Homo sapiens: one gene and its partner. The protein of the gene in region 2 interacts with the protein of the main gene of each other region in a biochemical or structural test. Each region holds a gene or a part of one and is shown on either strand. Other genes may lie near its edges.

Region 1 (10,405 bases), on a different chromosome or scaffold from region 2:
AGGCTGCAGTGAGCCATGATCACAACACTTCACTCCAGTCTGGGCGACAGAGTGAAACTGTCTCAAAAAAAAAAAAAAAAAAAAAAAAAAAAAAAAAGCCGGGCATGGTGGCTCACACCTGTGATCCCAGCACTTTGAGAGGCTGAGGCAGGTGGATCATTTGAAGCCAGGAGTTCCAGACCAGCCTGGTCAACATGGCAAACACCCATCTCTACTTAAAATACAAAAAAACAGCTGGGTGTGATGGTGGGCACCTGTAATCCCAGCTACTCGGGAGGCTGGGGCAGGAGAATCACTTGAACCCAGGAGACGGTGGTTGCAGTAAGCAGAGATTGCGCCACTGCACTCCAGCCTGGGCAACAGAGCGAGACTCCGTCTCAGGAAAAAAAAAAAAAAAAAAAAAAGACTTTACAAGAATAGTCATAGTGGCATAATCCATAATAGCCCAAAACTAGAAACAACCTAAATATCCATCAATAATACAATAAACTGTAGTATATTTATACAATGGAATACTATTTAGCAATGAAAATGAACGAACAGCTACATACAAATCTAAATCTTACAAACAAAATGTTGAGTCAAAGCCAGACATGAATACATACAATATGATTCCATGCATATAAAGATGCAAAACAATCAAAACTAAGCCAAAACTAAAAAGGTCTACACACACAAAAAAAGAAGGTGATTCTCCTACAATCAGGACAGAGATTACCTTTATGAGAGAAGGACTGGGTTGTGATTGGGAAGCTTCAAGGAAAGCTTGTGGAATGTCAGTAAGGTCCTAGTGCTTGACCTACATCATGGTTATACAAGTGTCTGATTCATAAATTGTAAAGCTTTACTTTTGTTTTACATACTTTTCTACATATGTGTTACATTCAAGACGGGCTTCAAGGCCGGACACAGTGGCTCATGCCTGTAATCCCAGCATTTTGGGAGGCCAAGACAGGAGGATCATTTGAAGCTATGAATTCGATGCCAGCCTAGACAAAAAACCAAAACTCAATATCCACAAAAATAAGTTTTAAAATTAGCCAGGCAAGGTGGCAAGCACCGGCAGTGTGGCTCACGCCTGTAATCCCAGCACTTTGGGAGGCCGAGGTGAGCAGATCACCTGAGGTCAGGAGTTTGAGACCAGCCTAGCCAACATGGTGAAACTCCATCTCTACTAAAAACAAAAATTAGCCAGGCGTGGTTGCCCATACCTGTAATCTCAGCTACTTGGGAGGCTGAGGCAGGAGAATCGCTTGAACCTGGGAGGTGCCGTGAGACGAGATCGCATCACTGCACTCCAGTCTGGGCAAAACTCCATCTCAAAAAAACAAACAAACAAAAAAGTTAATTAAAAATAAATAAATACACAAATAATGGCTTCAAGAAAGAATTCCTTCAAAAGGTAAGTTATATTCCTACAGTAAAATTATGTTTAAGGTCTGAATTTTATTTCTTGAGAAGTTTTTACAATTTCAGACACTTAATTTTTTTTGTTTTAAGACAGAATCTTGCTCTGTCACCAGGCTGGGTGCAATGGCGTGATTTTGGCTCACTGCAACCTGTGCGTCCCAGGTTCAAGCGATTCTCTCACCTCAGCTTCCCAAATAGCTAGGACTACAGGCACACACCACCACACCCAGCTAATTTTTGTATTTTTAGTAGAGACGGGGTTTCACCATGTTGGCCAGGATGGCAGAGACACTTAATTTAAGTTCACACAAATTTTCATCCCAAAATTTTCATCCCATTGGGTTATTTTTTTTTTTTTTTCTGAGACAGGGTCTCGCTCTGTCATCCAGACTGGAGTGCAGTGGTGTAATCCCAGTTCACTGCAACCTCCGCCTCCAGGGTTCAAGGAATTCTCATGCCTCAGCCTCCAGAGTGGCTGTGATTACAGGCGTGCACCACCACACCCAGCTAATTTTTTTATTTTTTAGTAGAGATGGGGTTTCGCCACGTTGCTCAGGCTGGTCTTGAACTCCTGGCCTCAAGTGATCCACCCACCTCAGTCTGCCAAAGTGCTAGGATTACAGGCGTGAGCCACTGTGCCTGGCCTGATTATCTTATTTCCATGCAAAAGGGCTTCCAAACATAAATGCATTAACAATGAGAAAAAATGAAACTAATATATACAAAAGGGCTGTCACATAAAAATTATCTATTCATCACTTAGCACACCATAATAAAGTTAAAAAGAATACAGGTGTTTAGTTTCATTCTTTGGTGAACAACTAAAAATGACTGTTCAAGAGTTGCCACCTTTCTGAAGCACAGCCCTGATCATGCATCTCCTACTCAGAAATCTTCAATAGCTACACACGCAGTATCTCAAGATTGGAAGGAATCTTAAAAATCACCTAGCGGGCTGGGCACAGTGGCTCACGCCTGTAATCCCAGCACTCTGGGAGGCCAAGACAGGCGGATCACCTGAGGTCAGGAGTTTGAGACCAGCCTGACCAACATGGAGAAATCCCGTCTCTACTAAAAATACAAAATTAGCTGGCCGTGGTGGTGCACGCCTATAATCCCATCTACTCGGGAGGCTGAGGCAGGGGAATCGTTTGAACCCGGGAGGCGGAGGTTGCACCATTGCACTCCAGCCTGGCGACAGAGTGAAACTCCATCTCAAAAAAAAAAAAAAAAAAAAATCACCTAGCACCAGGTTCAATGCTTGCAACCTGGCAGAGGATGCACTACCTCATAGAAACATTCACACCATCACTGAACAGCCATGGCTCTAGAAAAATAAAAAGCAATAGTAAAATGGAAGGTGGAGGAGAGGGAGAAATCAAGAACACCACACACATTTCCGGCTTAAGCACCCAGTGGTGTCATTTAACAAATTAAGAAACACCAGAGGAAGTGTAGGAATCATACATTCCGTTCTGGATGTGTTCGGTTTAAGGGGCATCCAAATGGAAACATTCAGTAGCAATTCGATAGAGTGGTCCTCAGACTCAGGAGAGAGGTAAAAACTGAAGACATAAAAATGAATACTCAGCACACAGATGAAAAATGAAATAGAAAGCGATGAGAAAGCCCAAAGAAATTCAAACATTTAATAAATGAGCACAGAAAGACTCAAAAGGTGACTGAGAGGCCAGGCACGGTGGCTCACGCCTATAATCCCAACACTTTGGGAGGCCAAGGCAGACAGATCACCTGAGGCCAGGAGTTCGAGACCAGCCTGGCCAACATGGTGAAACCCCATCTCTACTAAAAATACAAAAATTAGCTGGGTGTGGTGGTGCACACCTGTAATCCCAGCTACTCAAGAGGCTAAGGCAGGAGAATCACTTGAACCCAGGAGGCGGAGGTTGCAGTGAGCCAAGATTGTGCCACTGCACCCCAGCCTGGGCGATAGAGCAAGACTCTGCCTCAAAAAAAAAAAAAAAAAAAAAAAAGTGACAGAGAAAGAGCCCAGAGAACCAGCAAGAAAAACAGAAAAGTGCTCTGAAGACCTCAAGAGAAGAGAGAGCTTTACAAAGGAAGGAGGGGTATCCGCTCTGTCAAATGCTGCTGTGGTAGACAGTCCTGAAATGGCTATGAGTGATCTCTGCCTCCCAGCATTCATGCAATTGTGAAATCCTGCCTTGAGTGCACTGGACCTAGTGACTGGCTGATAACAGAATACAACAAAAGTGATACCACATCACTTCCAAGATAAGGTTACAAAAAGATTCTGGCTAATATCTGTCCTCTTTTGAAGACAGAAGCACTGAGATATCATATTTTAAGTAGTCGTACGCAGAAACCCAAATGGCAAGGGACTCACCTCTCCAGCAAGCAGCCAACAAGGACCTCAGGCCTGCCAATTGCCGCATGAGTGAGCTTGGAAACAGCCTCCCCAAGTAGCGCTTTGAGATGACTGCAGCCTTGTGAGAGACCCTGAATCATAGGTGCCAACTGCACCCACATTCCTGATCTACAAAATCTGTGAAACAATAAATGTTTCTTAAGTTAGGGGGTAATTTGTTATATAGCCAATAGAAACTAGCACAGCTGCTAAGAGGTTAAATAAGAACAGGATAGTAAAATAGACATTGGCTATTTTCATACATATTTTCACTAGCTATTTTCAGTTTCACTGAAATAATGGCGATAGAAACAAGACAGAAATAGGTTGAGAAGTCACAGGTGAAGAAATGGAGATACACAGCAAATGCAGAAAACTCTTAAGTGTGTAAAGCAGAGAGCAACTTAGAGCAATAAAGTATAAATCTGGAGTTTTTTATTAAGATGAAGAGACATTTTAAAGTTTAAATGATGATAACAAGCCAATAGGGTGGAAAAATACACTCTCATGGAACTTCATTCTTTTATCAAGAAACTCCTCTAAAAGTCTTCAACTTCCTTGGGAAATGTTCTTGCTACCTCTCTGCCTTAACTGAAAGCTGACTTTCCAATCAGGACACCTCTTCTCATATAGTCCTTTTAAGTGAAAGCTACTCAGTCTCTTCCACTCCACACCCAATACTGGGAAATGAGGCTGGTACCTTCCTTCCTGCCAGTGCCAGTTCCAGACCACTATTCCCAAACCCTTACGTAAAATCTTAGTCTAATTCTCATGCTATTCAGCAGCACAGTCTTCAACCTCTACCTCTTCACTATCAGCTAATGACCACCTGGACATCCCCCATACTCAGTAAGGATATGCTGGCAACTAGTTCACAGCTGCCATTATCCTCTATGCCACCAGTCTTGCTACCATCCTGTGTCATTTCAATAAATGTATGGATGAGTCTAACACCAAGTTCCTCAAACCCAAGATCCTCAACAAGCACCTCTTTATTTCCTGGGTATTCAACTTGTGAATTCACATTATTATGCTAGCATCCATTCATTCATCAAGTATTTAATAAGTATCTAATAGATAGTTCCTGTCCTCAAGAAATCTAGGACACATATGTTCGTACTTTCCACAAAGACGACATGAAAAAGCCTAGCTGACGTATACATAAATTCCAACTACTGCATTTCCTTTATTTATCAGTCAAGTAACCAAGTCAATTCTAGGCAACTACTGTCTGATGTGACTTAGTGAATCCATGTTTGATCCTAGCAGTCACTATTTCCCTTGACAGGCTTCTAAAACTATCTTTTAAATAAGCTATTCTAAAATAGTGCCTGGGCAACATAATGACGCCTTGTCTCTCTACAAATTTTTTTTAATTAGCCAGGCATGGTGGCACATGGCTACAGTCCCAGCTACTCTGGAGGCTGAGGTGGGAAGATCGCTTGAGCCCAGGAATTCAAGGTTGCAGTAAGCTATAACCGCACCATCGCATTTCAGACTGAGTAACAGACCAAGACCCTTCTCAAAAAGTATAAAATATTGCCAGTGTTCAGTGTCAGAGTGGAAGATAAAATGTTTCTTATATGTATGCAATTTTAGAATAGGTAATGTCCTATTACACAAAATTTCACTGGCTAAAAAGAAAAAACAAGAAACTGCAAACAGTGATTGCCTTCAGAAAGAACTAGATGGGATAGGAGAGACTTTTAACTGTGTATTCTCTTATACCTTCTAATTTAGTACATATATTACCTATTTCTTAAAATAAGTGTACATAAAATTAACAACAACAATAAGAAGTCATGTGCCTTTCCTTAGCACTCCCAGGTTGCCTATTTTGTTCTGAAAAGAATGATTTTTTTTAATTTACAGATGGGGTCTCACTATGTAGCCCAGGCTGGAGTGCAGTGGCTATACACATATGCAATCATAGCACACTACAGCCTTGATCTCCTGGACTCAAGCAATCCTCCTGCCTCAGCCTCCAGAGCAGCTGGAACTACAGGCATGTGACACTGTGCCTGGCTGAAATATTTCTTAAAAATCTACCCGGAGAATGAGGCCAGGTGTGGTCGCTTATGCCTGTAATCCCAGCACTCTGAGAGGCCAAGGCGCGCGGATCATGAGGTCAGGAGATCAAGACCATCCTGGCTAACACAGTGAAACACTGTCTCTACTAAAAATACAAAAAAAAAAAAAAAAAAAAAAAAAAGCCAGGCATGGTGGCGGGCACCTGTAGTCCCAGCTACTCCGGAGGCTGAGGCAGAATGGTGTGAACCCAGGAGGCGGAGATTGCAGTGAGCCGAGATTGCGCCACTGCACTCCAGCCTGGGCAACAAAGAGAGACTCCATCTCAAAAAAAAAAACAAAAAAAACAGAGAAGTAAAAAACTAAAAGACTCTTACATTTGTCTCATCTATCTCACACTAAAACTTATTTAGTCATTTCCCTGTTATTAGACATCATAATCAAGCAGAATTCTCTCTTACTCAACATTCTGACACAACTTTAAACAATGACACCGCTGACCGTTCCCTCCTTCTTGAAAGCTTCCTTTCCTTCACTTCTAGAATATCATACTCCCCTGGTTTCCCTCCTAACTCAATGATTTCTTATCACTCTCCTTTACTGGTTCCTCTTGATTTCCCCTCACGTATCTAGAAGGTAAGTTCCATGAAGGTGAAAACTTTTGTCAGGTTTATATCCCCAATGCCTAAAAAGGTACCTAGAAGAACCATACTCACTAAGTAACTTATGAATGAATAAGTGAATGAATCAGTCCCCTAGGCTCAGATGTTTGGATCTCTTCTCCACCAAAATTCACTCCCCTGATGATCTCACCTATCTCATAATCATAAATACTACAAAGAAGCTGAAAACAGCCACATTTCTCACTCTTCCTGGACATCACCCTGAACTTCTGGTTTCTCCACAAACATGCTCCATGAATTACCATCTCCAATTCAGTTACTGGCAACTTTATTCTTCCAGTTATTCAGGCCAAAAACCTTATTCTTTATTCTTCTGTTTGGCCCACATCCCGCAAACAACCACCAACAAATTCTATAGGTCTACCCTCAAAATACATACAAAATCCAACCCCTCCTCCCCATTTCACCTTGGTCAGAGATACCCTCACCTGGAACAATACAGCATAAGCTCCTGACTACTGCCCGTACTTTTATTTATTTATTATTTATTTGAGATAGCCTTCCCTCACTCTGTCGCCCAGGCTGGAGTGCAACGACGGAATGACAGCTCACTGCAACCTCGAACCCCTAGGTTCAAGTGATCCTCCTGCCTCAGTCTCCTGAGTAGCTGAGACTATAGGCACATACTGCCATGCTAATTTTTTTTTTTTTTTTTGAGACAGAGTCTTGCTCTGTCACCCAGGCTGGAGTGCAATAGCACGATCTCCACTCACTGCAACCTCCGCCTCCTGGGTTCAAGAGATTTTCCTGCCTTAGCCTTGCGAGTAGCCAGGATTCCAGGCACGCGCCACCACCCCCAGCTAATTGTTTGTATTTTCAGTAGAGACGGGGTTTCACCATGCTGGCCAGGCTGGTCTCGAACCCCTGACCTCATGATCCGCCCGCCTTGGCCTCCCAAAGTGCTGGGATTACAGGCGTGAGCCACCGCACCCGGCCTAATTTTTTTATTTTTGTAGAGACATGGTCTCGCTATGTTGCCCAGCCATCCTCCCACCTCGGCCTCCCAAAGTGCTGGGAGAACTGTTCACTACTATGATACCAGCATCTAGAATATGTGGTACATAATATGTATTTAATATATACTTATTAAGTAAAAATAGTATACACAGTTAAACTTCAAATGATGTTAGTGAACCAGCTAATTATGTGCCCAAACTGTTCTAAATACATGAATTAATTCATTTGACCAGCTTAAGAGGTTAGGTACTACTGTTATTATTTCTATTTTGCAGATGAAGAAATTAAGGTACAGGTTAAGGTTAGGAAATAAACAACATTAAGCAGTTTGCCCTACATCATACCATGGCAAAGCCAGGATTTGAACTCAGGCACTCTGACCCCAGAACCCAAACTCTAGTACACTGAAAGACTTGGTGAGCAACAGATTTCAATTACATTCCACACACAAAAAATAAATAAGAAAAAAAAACAAATTATATTCCACATAATCTGTATGCTAAGTTTATTTTACTATATGTCTCTGAAAACTGATAATCAATGTACTACTGATTCTTAAACCAAAATACTTCATTTCTTGATCTTTTTCCATTAATGTTTCTGATGAAATATGTGTAAAATACACATTTAACAACTCTCATACTTCTAAATGTAAACATAGTGTAAAACCGAGCAGCTGTTGCTATGAAAACCTTCACTTTTTTTTTTTTTTTTTTTTTTTTTTTTTGAGACGGAGTTTTGCCGTGACTCAGGCTGGAGTGCAGTGGTGCAATCTCGGCTCACTGCAAGCTCCACCTCCCAGGTTCAAGCAATTCTCCTGCCTCAGCTTCCTGAGTAGCTGGGGTTACAGGTGTGCACCACCACACCCAGCCAATTTTTATTTTTATTTTTTGAGATGGAATCTCGCTCTGTAGCCCAGACTGGAGTGCAGTGGCATGATCTCGGCTCACTGCAGCCTCTGCCTCCCAGGCTCAAGCAATTCTTCTGCCTCAGCCTCCTGAGTAGCTGGGATTACAGGCATGTGCCACCACGCCCAGCTAATTCTTATATTTTTAGTAGAGACAGGGTTTCACCATGTTGGCCAGGCTAGTCTCGAACTCCTGACCTCATGATCCGCCTGCCTCGGCCTCCCAAAGTGCTGGGATTACAGGCATGAGCCACGGCGCCCGGCCAAGAACCTTCACTTTTAAGTTTGCAGTATTAATGTTGAATTAACAGACTGGCATACTTATCTATGACACAGGTAATGAAGGAAAAAAAACACCTCAGTAGACTCAACAAGGATATCACAAGTAATGACTAGCAAGCAACATTTTTTGAAAAATAAAATGTAGGCATAATTTCAGGCACAAGAAATGCTAAACGAAATAGCTTACTTTTACCTTAAGACTTTCCCCAAATTATGTGATTTCATTCCTACAAGGACAAGAATCACAGCTTACTACCAGCCATGCAAATGTCATTTTAGGAGTACACACAAGTTTTACCCAGTATCTTAGTTCACATTTGTCCCAATTAATTAAGTCTATGTATAATTTAAAAGCGAAAACTAGATATGTCAATTTTGTTTTCCTTCTAACTAATCCAAAGTCAAAACTGTTCACTTTACCAAATGAATTAACTGAATACAGTTAATTAAATCTTTTATTTATAATTAAAAATTGGAACACACACTTTCTCACTTAATACCTATTATGTCCTGTTTCCCATACCTCTCTATAAAGTAGAAGTATTTGCTGGAAGACAATAATCTGCTCATTAAGTAGGCACTTAGAAAAAGCAACGATCTGCAACTACTGAAATTCTTATCTGTATATTTCTCTTTTGGGTTACAAGAAAGCACTTCTCTGGCTATTTTCCCAAATAAACTAGGCAAGCCTTGGGAAAGTCACTGCTTAAATCCCACTTTCTGACAGCTTCTCTTCCTCCATAAATGAATTATTGAGAGCCATGTCTACTTCCATCCATTACATAATACATGTCCATCATGGGACCTGTTTTCTGAACAAGAAATAGCTTAAATGACACTAACTGATAAGTAGGGCCAGAGAATACTGTAATCTAACAGGGAGCAAGAATCCAGAAAAGAAGATTCTGATTTACAGTGCTAAGTTGTGAAAGAGTGATGTGAAGAACATTGAACACTGCTTACTCTAATATTTCCATACAAAGTGACACACCTGCCCCCAAAATGTTTTTAAAGCACTTGACTCCAAGAACATTTCTCAGAAATTGAGGAGCCTACCAAAAAAAAAGAGTTCCATTTCATTTTAAAGTGTTTTAATAAAGACTGCAAGAAACATAACTGCAAATGAGAAATAAAATTTCAACAATTTAGCACTGAACACAAAATGTCTAAAAGTCAAGGTGTACTGAGCAAGCAACACGCTATAAAAGACGGTTGTACTTTAAAACATTTAAGCATTTTTCATATAATTAGCTCCAACAGAACTATTCCAATTGTTCACTTTATCCACCCAAAGCAGTCAACCACAACCACCTGCAACTATTATTCAGCAATGTGCCTTCCAAAGCAACCACCTGAGTTTGGGGCCTTCTCTCAAGGGGCCAGGATAAAGCCTGTAAAAGGGTGGTATAAAGAGATCTTTTAGGCATTGGGGGGAAAAAAAACTGGAAGACACCACCTTGAAGGAGCTAAGCGTAATGCGACCCAAATGGTGGCTGCCGGAACGAAGTTGTCTAAACCGAAGATCTCCCTCTTCTTCGGTGTAAAACTTTCAGATACATCCACGCTCACAATTTACCTGAGCCAAAGTAAGGGGATTCTCTTCCCTCTCCGACCCCCCACCCACCCCGCCAGAAGAAAAAGAATCGAACCCTAAAGTAGAAACGTGAGATCTAGTGCAATAAAATAGGTTCTGCAACTGCCTCAAAGGCAACATGCACAGCTCATCGTCCTTTTGAAATACACTTCATCTTT
Region 2 (10,405 bases):
CTCCTCTTCCCTTCACCCGTCCACTTCCCCCAGCGCCTGTCCACCCAAGCAAAGCCTGTCTTGCCTGGGCCGTGGGATCACCATCTATACCAAGGCCAGGGAGTCCCTTTCCCAGAAGCCTTCCCTCGACCAGTGCTCAAATGCCAGCTCCCAGCCCTGGCCTCAGCCCAGTTACCTGTCAGCCCCACTCAAAGTGCAATGGAGATGAAGAGCCTGCTGGGTTCACATCTCAAAGCACAGGGGTATGTGGGCCTTGCCTAATTGGCAGCAGGAGCAAACCCTTCAAGCTTTAGTCAGAACACATCACTTAGATCCTGAGGATGGTTACTGTAAGAAGCCACATCCATGGGGCCTAAGCACAGCCCCCTCGCCAGCCCTTTCCACTGGTGCCCCCGGGGGCTGTGGGCTAAAGAAGCACTTATCAGAACCACCACAGGGACTGGTTCCAAATGCACAGCCAGGCTGGCCCTCTGCCTTCCTCATCGGGCTCAAAACCAACACTGTGAGATTTTAGCCTTGCATCAAACCAGACCTAATTATAGCTGAGGATCAGGCCCTTTGATACCTCACAGAATTGCTCTTCCTGGACAGGGATTGCCTTAAGACAGGGGTGTGTGGGGTGTGGTGGTATAAGAAACACTGTTTTGGAACTTCTTGCTGGCATCCTAAGGATGCTTTTGTGGCTCCTATTTGAGGACAACAGGAGAGGTTCTTTTGTTTTAAGTACTATGAAAAGCCATGCTTCTCCTGAAGTTCACATTCTCTTTCCTTGCCTTGGCTGTGAGGATGCTCAGAGCCAACTTTTTGGCCACCTCTAACAACCATGCGGCCATGGCATACATTTTGAGTATGACTTTATCTCTGACTTTTCTTTGCTTTTCCTACCTTTATTTTCCCCATGTGTGTGTGTACACACATACACATACAACTTTATCTTGTGTGTATGTATATGTATCTTATACCATGGCAGCCTATAAATGAGTAAATAGATACTAAGCCAGTGCCTTCCTTCCCACTGCCCACTGCAGCCCACCTTTTGTTCTCTCTACCCTAGTCAAGCAGCCTGCTTCTCTACTGCCCATCATTTTTGGTAAACCCACTGCCAGGAATGCCCTGCTGTTTCTCTCTGCCAGCTGCAGTTCTATGGCCCATGCCGGCAGTGCAGTCCTGTTCTGTATTGCTGGCCTGGGCACAGGCCTCCTTGAGGTCTCCTGGTCTTCTCTGAGTGCCCCTCTGAGCCCAGCCAGCTCTCTCTCAGCATGGTGGCTTCCCAAAGCCAGCTCTGGTGACAATCATGTCACACTCTGCTACAGAAACAAAGTGTCCACGGATTTCTCACTCTGGCATTTAAGGCCTCCCCATTTAGGGTCACCCCAAGCACCTGTTGACGCTAGCTTATCCCCTTCCCTCAATCACACACCAAGGCTCCACCAACCAGATTTTCCCTGCTTTAAACACGTCCTATGCTTTCCTTCTTTCCTTTGTTCATGCTGTTCTTTCCTTCTAGAAGTGATGCTCCCTCCCCCACACCCAGCCTTCCTCCCCATCTCCACCTGTAAAAATGTCCTCATTCCTTGGGCCAGGGTGCACGCATTAGTGGCCTCTCCTGCTGAGAGCTACCTCACTTCCACATTAGACCTCGTGCAGTGGGGAGTAAAAGAGCCACCTTCCAGCTGGGAAGCTGAGGTGCCCAGGTACAAACCCAAGGCTATCTTGACCCCAGCCTTCTACTTTCACTGACCTGGCTGTGCTAAGCCCCTTGTGGATGGGCTTCTCAAACTCAACACTACTGACATTTTGGGCCAGACAATTCCTTGTTATGAGGGCGTCCTGTGCACGGAGGATGTTCAGAAGCATCCCTGACCACTATCTATGAGATGCCAGTTAAACCCCATTCCCCCTCCCCCAATTTATGGTGAGCCAAAACGTCTGAAGACATTGCCAAATGTCCCCTGTGGGGAGGGGAGGGAAGGGCTATCAGTCCTGGTTGAGAACTAGTGGTCTAGCTTGAAGGTTGGCCACTGTTACAGCATTACGTTCTGCCCAGTATTGAAGTCACCTACGACCACTAAAACAATCTCATGCGCAATTTGATCACAATACTTTTGTACACTGCACAGCAATAGTTCTCAAATGGATTGCATCAAAATTTTCTGGGATGTTTGTTAAAAATACGTCTCACTGGGTCCTACCTTGGTAGATGTGGGGATGGGCCCCAGATGTGTGTTTTTAACAAGTTCTTTGGAGAGTCCCAATGCACAGACATCCGGGAAACCAATTCTACTGATACTTCTAGAACAGCACTGTCCAAAGAACTTTCTCCAGTGATGGAAATATTCTATATCTGCACTGTCCAAGATGTCACCATTAGCAACATGGGCAACTGGGCACTTGCAAGGATGCTAGTGCAAGTGAGGAAATGAACTTTTAATTCAACTGAATTTTAACTAATTTAAGTCGGAACACCCACATGTGGCTGCAGAATTGGAGAGCACAGGCCCAGCTCTTCCGCTAGGAGCCTTCCCAAAGGCTCTCATTTAATGACACCTCCTTCCTTGTTACGCCACATGCTGCTGAAATGCAGTGCTCAGGGGCTGCCCGCTGATTGAGAGGACAGGGAAGAATGACTGGACCCATGTCTAAATAATGTCCCAGAAGGGGAAACTCACGGTTTCTCACAAGCCTCAAGAGGTTAGATATGTGCCTTTCCGGCAGGCATGGCCAGAGCACACCCGCCTCTTCCCTCTGGGTCAAGTGTGGCCCATCACGGGCCACATTCAGTGCCCAATGTCCCTTCTCCCTGGTTCCTGGAAGTGATGGGTGGGCCCAGACAGCCTGTTACAAACTTACCCCCTACTGCTGGATATGCTTCCCCAATCCCAGTGCCTCTGACTCTACTGCAGCACAATCCTGTCTGTATCTGGAATGTCAAAGCACACCACAGCCCCATCAGAGAGTGCAACAGGGCTGTGGAATCCAGTCATTTGGATGTGGTTCCAGCTCTGAATTAAGGAGCTGGGAGGCCTTGAGCATGCTCTATCTGGTTTGCGGCGTCACTGTCCTCACCTGCTTAGAGCCACTTCATGAAGTGCCCACACTACTGCTCTTTCTTTGCGTAAGCCAGCCTTGTTCAGAAACAGTCTGGGGCCCATGTGATGGGCGCATACTGTATTTGGGTAGAAAGTGGGGGTTGGGGGGTTGTGTATGTAGAACCAGTAAGGGGCTTATGGCTCTACCATTTGGTGGCCCCTTGGCTCCTACTTTGTTGAGAGCAGACCAGTGGAGGGTGCTGCTGGGCAGAAGTATTGGCCAGAGCGGCCCTGAGGGGTCCTCCTGTCTCGAACGTGAAGAAGAGGTGCAGCAGCCCCCCATCTAGACCTGCAAGCAGCAGACGGAAACCTCATGCCACACATTCACCAAGTCCTGAGCTGAGCAAGTGAGGCCAGGTGTGAACAGTTTATACAGCGCCACAAAGCAGTGCTTCTGTGTGGCTGCTCTCAATGTGGAACACAATTATGAACATGACCCCAAAGCACACACCTTCAAAACACCTGGATTTGGACTGTGAGTAAGCAGAAATGCCAACACCCCATCCCGAAAGAAGCAGAATGACGGCTGCCTCTGCCTGGTCCCTCTGGGACCTCTGGTGGCCGCTCTAGCACCTGCCTCGTGAGAGGCCCAGCAAGCTGGCTCCTGGGCAGAAGTGAAAGGATGGGGGTACATCTACCCAGATGAGGGGACCCCTTAGCTAGAAAAAGGGACACAGGTCACAACACCCTGTGCAGTCTGTTTGCAACCTGCCATGTATCCTTTCTCCCAAGGGGCCCAAAGGTCAGTGGTAGCTGGATGAAACGCTAGGCATACCAGGACGATGACGAGCTCACTGTCACCCTGCACTCAGCCCAGTCTGACCTGACTGTGGGCCCAGCCTGGAGCCCTCAACAGCGCGACTCTGGGAGAATGTGAATGAAACGATCACCACTCACCCCGGCCAGTGTGCCACACCTTGGGAGCTGGTGGGATGGAGAGCGGGCAGTGCAACCCTTCCCCTTGCTGGCAGGCACAGCGGAGATCGCCTGCACCTTGTCTGCCCCTCTCCCTTGTTCCTGCTCCTATGTTTGCCCTTCAGGTTGGCTTCTGTATGTTCCTGGAACCTCAAAGGAGTCCCATGTGACAGGTGATTCCACAGGGGCTCTCTCCTGAGCTCTGGAGCCTGTCTCTGCTACTGAGAGCCGTGGGGTGCCCTAGTTTAAGTTTCTGAGCCTCAGTTTCCTTATCTGTGATTGGAGTCTCATAACTGACCAACCAGGAGATACTCCTCAAACCCCCTCCTCTCGGCCACTGCTTGTCCTCTGGTGACACACAGACCGTGGGACTGCTGGGGCACCTGCTCCTTGGTGAGCCTTCCTGACCCCCCCGGGGGGTGGGTCTCGAGTCTGCTCTGAGAGCTCCTTGAGCAAGGCTGGAGAGGCCTAGCTTCCCTCCAGGCCTGTGTCAGGCTCCCCCTTGCTGCAGCCCTGGGACTCCTGGTGTCCTGCCCGCCCTGCCCCAGCAGCTCCATGAGGCCTCCAACATTAAGCTGTGTGCTTCTTTTGCTTTTGATTCTCATCAGCCCAAAGGTGCCCTTCCATCTTCCCAGGGCCCTTCTTTGATCTGTCAGGGATGTCTACCCTCAGAGGCCTATAGGATCAGTGGGGGATGTTGGAGAGCTGCTGTGTAGGGACAGGTCCACTGTAAAGGATGCCAGCCAGGGATCTGCATGCTTGTTTTCTGGTGGCTTACTCAGGCAGGGACATCTGACTAGATGCAGGGGAGGCCCAGGTGTGGGCAATGGCTTCCCCTGCTGAAACAGTTTTCATCTGATTCTCTCAAATGCCCTTAGAGGGACAGTGTCCCACATGGAATAGGGCTGGATATGGAGGAAGCAAGCCTGAGTGTGAATCCTAACTGTAACTTACATGCTGTGTGACACTGGGCAAACCAGACTACCTCTCTGAACCTCAGTTTCAGCATCTAGGTGTCTCTTCAGGTTGGGGCTGGTTTGTGGGTGATGCGCAATGGTCCCACAGATCAGTGGGGAGCCTCAGGAGCTGTTCAGGGCTGGGTAGAGAAGGTGGGCGGGACAAGGAGGGGGCATCTGTCTGAAGGGGGGAGCTGTCTTGAGTAGACTGAACCACGTTGAGATCATATCCCCAGTGACAGAGACTTCCCTGCAGTGGAGACTCTGCCTGTGTTCATGAAACCCATAAACATGCTCGCTGTAAAGAAGGGCAAAGTCGCTGTTTCTCACTCCCCACCCCACAGCATCACTCTGTGCACACCCCTTTGGTATCTTCCTGCTATTCTGGAAGAAGAAGTAGATGGTTAGAGCCAGACGGGGGCTCCAAACCATAGGGTTCAGCTGCATCCCGCCTAGAGGAGGCCCCGTGCCATTCGCGGCAGACCAGGGAAGGCTGGGCGGGGACTGGGCGAGTGTCTGTCCACTGCACTAACATATTCAGTGAATAAATGGCTTCTATACATCTTTTCACTCACTTGTCAAAGGAAAAGGATACTCCCTTCTTTGCTTTTCTCCTGGACATTCTCCATTCCGGGTAGAGCCGACGCCACACGTCGAAAAAGCTGGAAAGATGAAGAAATGCAGTGTGAACCCCAACCCTGGCCCTCCCCTCTGCTCCTCACTGCACCTGCACCCTCACCCCTCTTCCCCTCCCAACCTGCAGCTTTACTCTCCCATCTGCCCAGCGGACGGTGCCCTCAAAGGCAGGGGCTGTGCCTATGTTCTCTCTCCCCCACCTCTCACAGCATTGGGTCTGGGCAGGCCTCAGTAGCTTGTGGAAGGAAGGAACAAAGCTGTGGCCTCTCACCCAAGCAGACTGGCCATAGGGTCACTGGGATGAGCTTAGGTCATGGCAGTGACTGCAAGGGACTTCCTCTGGTGCAGAAAATGGTTTGGGCCTCTGGGTGACAGGCCTTAAGGTGGGCTTCTGCAAACAGCCCTCATGGGGACCAGGCATGGGGAAGTGACTTGCCCTTGAGATGAATGACTCTGCTTGGGGAGCCCTGCAGGTCCGGCGCCAAGGCAGCGAACAGCAGGGCCAGGGCTGCATGGGCACAGTGGTGAGGCTTCTCTGAGAGCGCGAGGGATGCAGGAGTGTGAACACAATTTTGTGGGCTTGTTTGGATGTGTAGGAGTGTGAGTTGTTTATTGTGTGTAGGAGTGTGTGTACAGTGTATGTGTTTTATCTGTAGGACTGCGTGGAAAATGTGTGTGTTGTGAGTGGTGCGTGTGGGTAGGTGCATGTATGTTTGTGTAAGCATATGGGGGAATGTTTGAGTGTGGTGTGTGTGAACGTGTGGCATCTTTATGTGTGTGTTTGTGTAAGTGTGGGGGGAATGTGTGCATAGTGTGTGTCCTTGGTAAGGTGTGTGTCTGCGTACATGTGGGTTTTCTGTGTGTGTGTGTGTGTGTGTGTGTGTGTGTTTGGGCAGGTGTGGGTGGCAGGGGACAGGTGGCAAGTGGCAGATGGGGTGCTGGCAGAGATGGAATCTTGGAGGTGACAGGTACGAGGCAGAAGTATGAGGCACAGAAGACTCTGAACTGCTAGGTTCTGAATGCCGGTCCCCCTGCAAATTCCTATGTTGAAACAGAATCTCCAATGTGACAGTATAAAGAGGTGGGGCTTTAGGAGGTGCTTAGTCAGGAGGGTAGAGTCCTCATGAACGGGATGAGTGCCCTTATGAATGAGGCCCGAGGGAGCCTGTCTGCCCCTTCCACCTTGTGAGGATGCAGCAGGAAGGTGCCATCTAGGAGGAAATGGGCCCTCACCAGACACTGAATATGCCTGCACCTTGACCATGGAGTTCCCAGCCTCCAGAGCTGTAAGCAATACATTTCTGCTGTTTATATGCTACCCTGCCTATAGTGATTTGTTACGGTAGCCTGAAAGGACTAACCCAGGAGCACTCCCGCTGTCCTCACAAATGTGAATTGCAGGAACTGGGTGGGCTCTGGGCTCATACCCTCCACTGCATGAGCTCTCTGAAGACAGGGTGAGTCTTATTCATGGCCTCACCCCAGAGCCCAGCCCCAGCTGAGCACCCGGGCTGGGTGACAGGGCTAAAGGCCATGAGGGCCCAAGGGGGGAAGCTGCTGGTGGGCCCAGCATGGTGTGAGACCCTTGTGGGCGGGCTGCAGAGGAGGCTCTGCAGTGGGGTAGCCATTAGTAGGCAAGGGTAAAAGGGCCCAGGCCATCCTTCCTGAGCTTTCCTTCATGGCATTGGCCCTGGGCGGCTCTGATCTGCCTGTCTGGCTCTCAAAACAGTCACAGCCTCTACTAGTGGCCAAAATGCCACTAGGGATTTTGAAGGGTGCTCTAGGATCAGGTATGGGTTTCTAGGGTCAGGTATGGGTTTCTGTGAGTGGATATGCTCACATTTAGATCCAGGAGTCTGCACTGCATGGACACTCCTCTGAGCCACACAGGGTTCGAAACTGACCACATTTAACTCCTGCTAAACCACTGCATGGGTTCCAGAGCACTCTGGGGGTAGGGGCATCAGTGCCTCCCTGACCCTGACGGCTGAGGCAGATGCTACCTGCCCTATGGACCTCCTGGTGCTGCCCTGCCCTCCCTCTGCTTCCCTGCTTCCCATGACTTTAGGGCTCCCAAAGAGTAGCAGCCCAGTCTCTCCTGCATGCCCCCAGGGAGCAGGAAGGACCATGACAGCTTCAGCCCCACACCAAGGGAGGCTGGGAACAGATGGGAGTGAGTGAAGCCCTGATGAGGACACTCTAGTTAGGGTGGGGCACTGAGTCCTGGAGCTTTGGGGCCCCCAGTGTCACATAGTGTCCCTTCCACCCTTCTTGTCTCTTCTTGTCGTTCTGCCAGCCCACCTTCCCCACTGCCACCAGCACTGTCCACACAGGGCAAACCATCACTGCATCCAGAAGGCCAGTGCTGTATACACAGCTTGCCAAGGGTTCCCAGCAATGCTGGGGTGGCAGGGCAGAAGCGACCGCCAGGCCAACCACACTCCTCACCCAGAGTCCCCTCCCCATACCTCGGGCACCCTGCAGCCACACCTTTGCTGCTCCCCTGCTTGGCATGCCCTCCCTCCTCACCACCTCTCCAAGTCCTTCTCATCCCCAACGGCAGGAGTTCTTAACCCTTCCGTGAGCCAAGGACCCCTCTGGCAATCTGGTTAATCCTATGGACTCCTTTGAAGTATGTGAAATCAATTACATAGGATGATAAAGGGGACTACTGAGTACTGAAATAAAACTTCATCGACATTTGTGCTTCCTTATGAAACACATTGAACAGCGAGAACTAGCAAGAGATCTAATAAGTAGTGTGATGCTGAAACACTGATAGATGTGAAGTTCAAGATACCTGCAACACTATGAGGTGATGGGAAGGCATCTGTGATTTCTATTGGTGGTAAAGCCATAGGCACTGCTAATGTGACTGAGTGTCATTGCCTACATTCATCATTGAAGGACAAATCAGACGTCCTTCAGTGCTACGGACGGGTCAGTGGTTAGTGAAGATAAAGGTGCAATGTTTTCCAGCCCTGTCTGCTGACCTGCTAAATTCCACCCATGGACTACTCAGGGGCCCTCATGCTGCAAGGCTCAGCCCTAACTCCACTGCCTCGCCCTCCTGTGAGTTCCAACCACATCATGGTAGGCTCTTTCCCCCAGGCCTGAGTTGCCCTCCACAGCCCTGAGCACTTGCTAAGCGCAAGGCATGAACCCCAAATGCTGATCAGATTGAATTTTCCTGCACCTGTCATCCAAAGTGGGGTGAGGGGCTAGGGAACCACTGCTTCCCTCAGCCTCCTGGAAGCTGGTGGCTGGACACTCTTAGGGCCTGCTACGTGGGCCGTGACTGGCAACTACTACGGTGGCTGGTGACTTATGTTCTCCAGATGCCATGCCCGGAGTGGTCCCTCCCTCTTTTGGGCTTTACCAGCTCCGGAAATTAGCTCTCCCCTCCCTGGGCGCATCTATGGGTGTTCTGGTTGGCTGCCCCAATCCCATCACCAGCCCTTCAGGGCAAGGCAGCTCTGAGCCTGCAGCTGACCACAGGGCTACACCGTGCCGGGCCCCGTGCCGGGCCCCGTGCCAGGTGTGTCCTCACCTGCTTCACGTTGTAGCCAGTCTTCGCACTGGTCTCAATGAACATGACGCTCAGTTCTTTGGCGCGCTGCTCCCCCTCCTCGATGGTTATCTGCCTAGAGATGAGGGGAAGGGGGGAAATCAGCTCAGCAGAGAAGCAGACCCTGGCAGATATGAGGAGGGACCCACCCAGCAGGGCAGAGGGAGCCCACTGGGCCCTTGGTCAGTCCTGAAGACAGGCTCTGATCCCAAGGGTCCCTCCCGGGCACCAACCACAGTCTCGCTAGCACAAAGCAGGCACCAGGGAACAGTAGGACACTATCCGCTTCCCCCACTCCTTCCTTTGTGTCTTCTCAGCTTCAAAGCAGGCCCTGGGGTAGGGCTGCCCCATACCTGCCTTTCCCAGTAGTCACTACTGCAGAGCCTGTGCTTATGAAGAGATTCAAGCCAGGCAGTGCCACTCTGGGTGGTATTATCAGTCGCATTTTCCCTGTGAGAACACTAATGCTAAAAGTGTCTCCCCCAGGGCCACAAAGCTACTTAGCAGAGAGGGCTCCATGATGGGGCAGGCAGAAGTGGGTGAGGGTATGAAGGGCCTGGGTACCCTTTGTACTGGGATTTGAGCCCAGTTTTCCTTACTTTAAGGACAGAACTCTAGTAAAGCAGGCTCTAATTCAGATGATTCCTCAGGTGGTCAAGGGACGCTGCAGGAAGCCCACACTGCTTGCTGGAGTCCATGGCCTGTCACTTTATCTGCCCAAGTCAGGGTCATGTAAAATGAGTGGACAATGTACACACATGGCACCTCAGTTCTCCCTGTGCATGGAGGGCAGCATGGAGGAGCCTCTTCAGAGAAAGCTTCATGCCAGACGCAGCCACAAACCAGGCTAAGCAGGCTACGGCCATAGGTTTGTGGTCTGAATGCTCTGCATGCTCACACCTAGGGCCCAGGGCATTCACAGCCCCACGCACATTGGTGCAGACACTTCACAGGCACAGACAGTTCACAGTGCACACGCTGGGGCCTAGAGGACTGCTGTGTCTGGGGCAGGGCTGTGGCCATGGCAGGGCCTTAGACCATGCACTGCTGGGTCAAGCCAGGTGCACAGTGCTCTGTGTAGACAGCAAACGGAGAAGTGCCCCGCCCCTGCCTGGTGGTGGAAGACAGGGCTTCACAGATGAGATACCCATGGATGAGAGTCTACCAGGTGTCCTCAAAGCTCCTAGTGTCTCAAGGGACCTTTTCCGGATGCATGGTCAGAAGCACAGACACACCACCCA

Evidence for each region.
Region 1: the proteins of RAB6B (region 2) and ERC1 form a complex in vitro, tested with the Homo sapiens proteins (one study listed by BioGRID).

Annotation. Positions count from the first base shown.
Region 1 is NC_000012.12:991,853-1,002,257, reverse strand, and holds part of ERC1 (ELKS/Rab6-interacting/CAST family member 1), read right to left. Parts: intron 1-10,405. UniProt on the Homo sapiens protein: Regulatory subunit of the IKK complex. Probably recruits IkappaBalpha/NFKBIA to the complex. May be involved in the organization of the cytomatrix at the nerve terminals active zone (CAZ) which regulates neurotransmitter release.
Region 2 is NC_000003.12:133,829,020-133,839,424, forward strand, and holds part of RAB6B (ras-related protein Rab-6B), read right to left. Parts: intron 9,241-10,405; coding exon 9,147-9,240; intron 5,623-9,146; coding exon 5,556-5,622; intron 1-5,555. UniProt on the Homo sapiens protein: The small GTPases Rab are key regulators of intracellular membrane trafficking, from the formation of transport vesicles to their fusion with membranes. Rabs cycle between active GTP-bound and inactive GDP-bound states.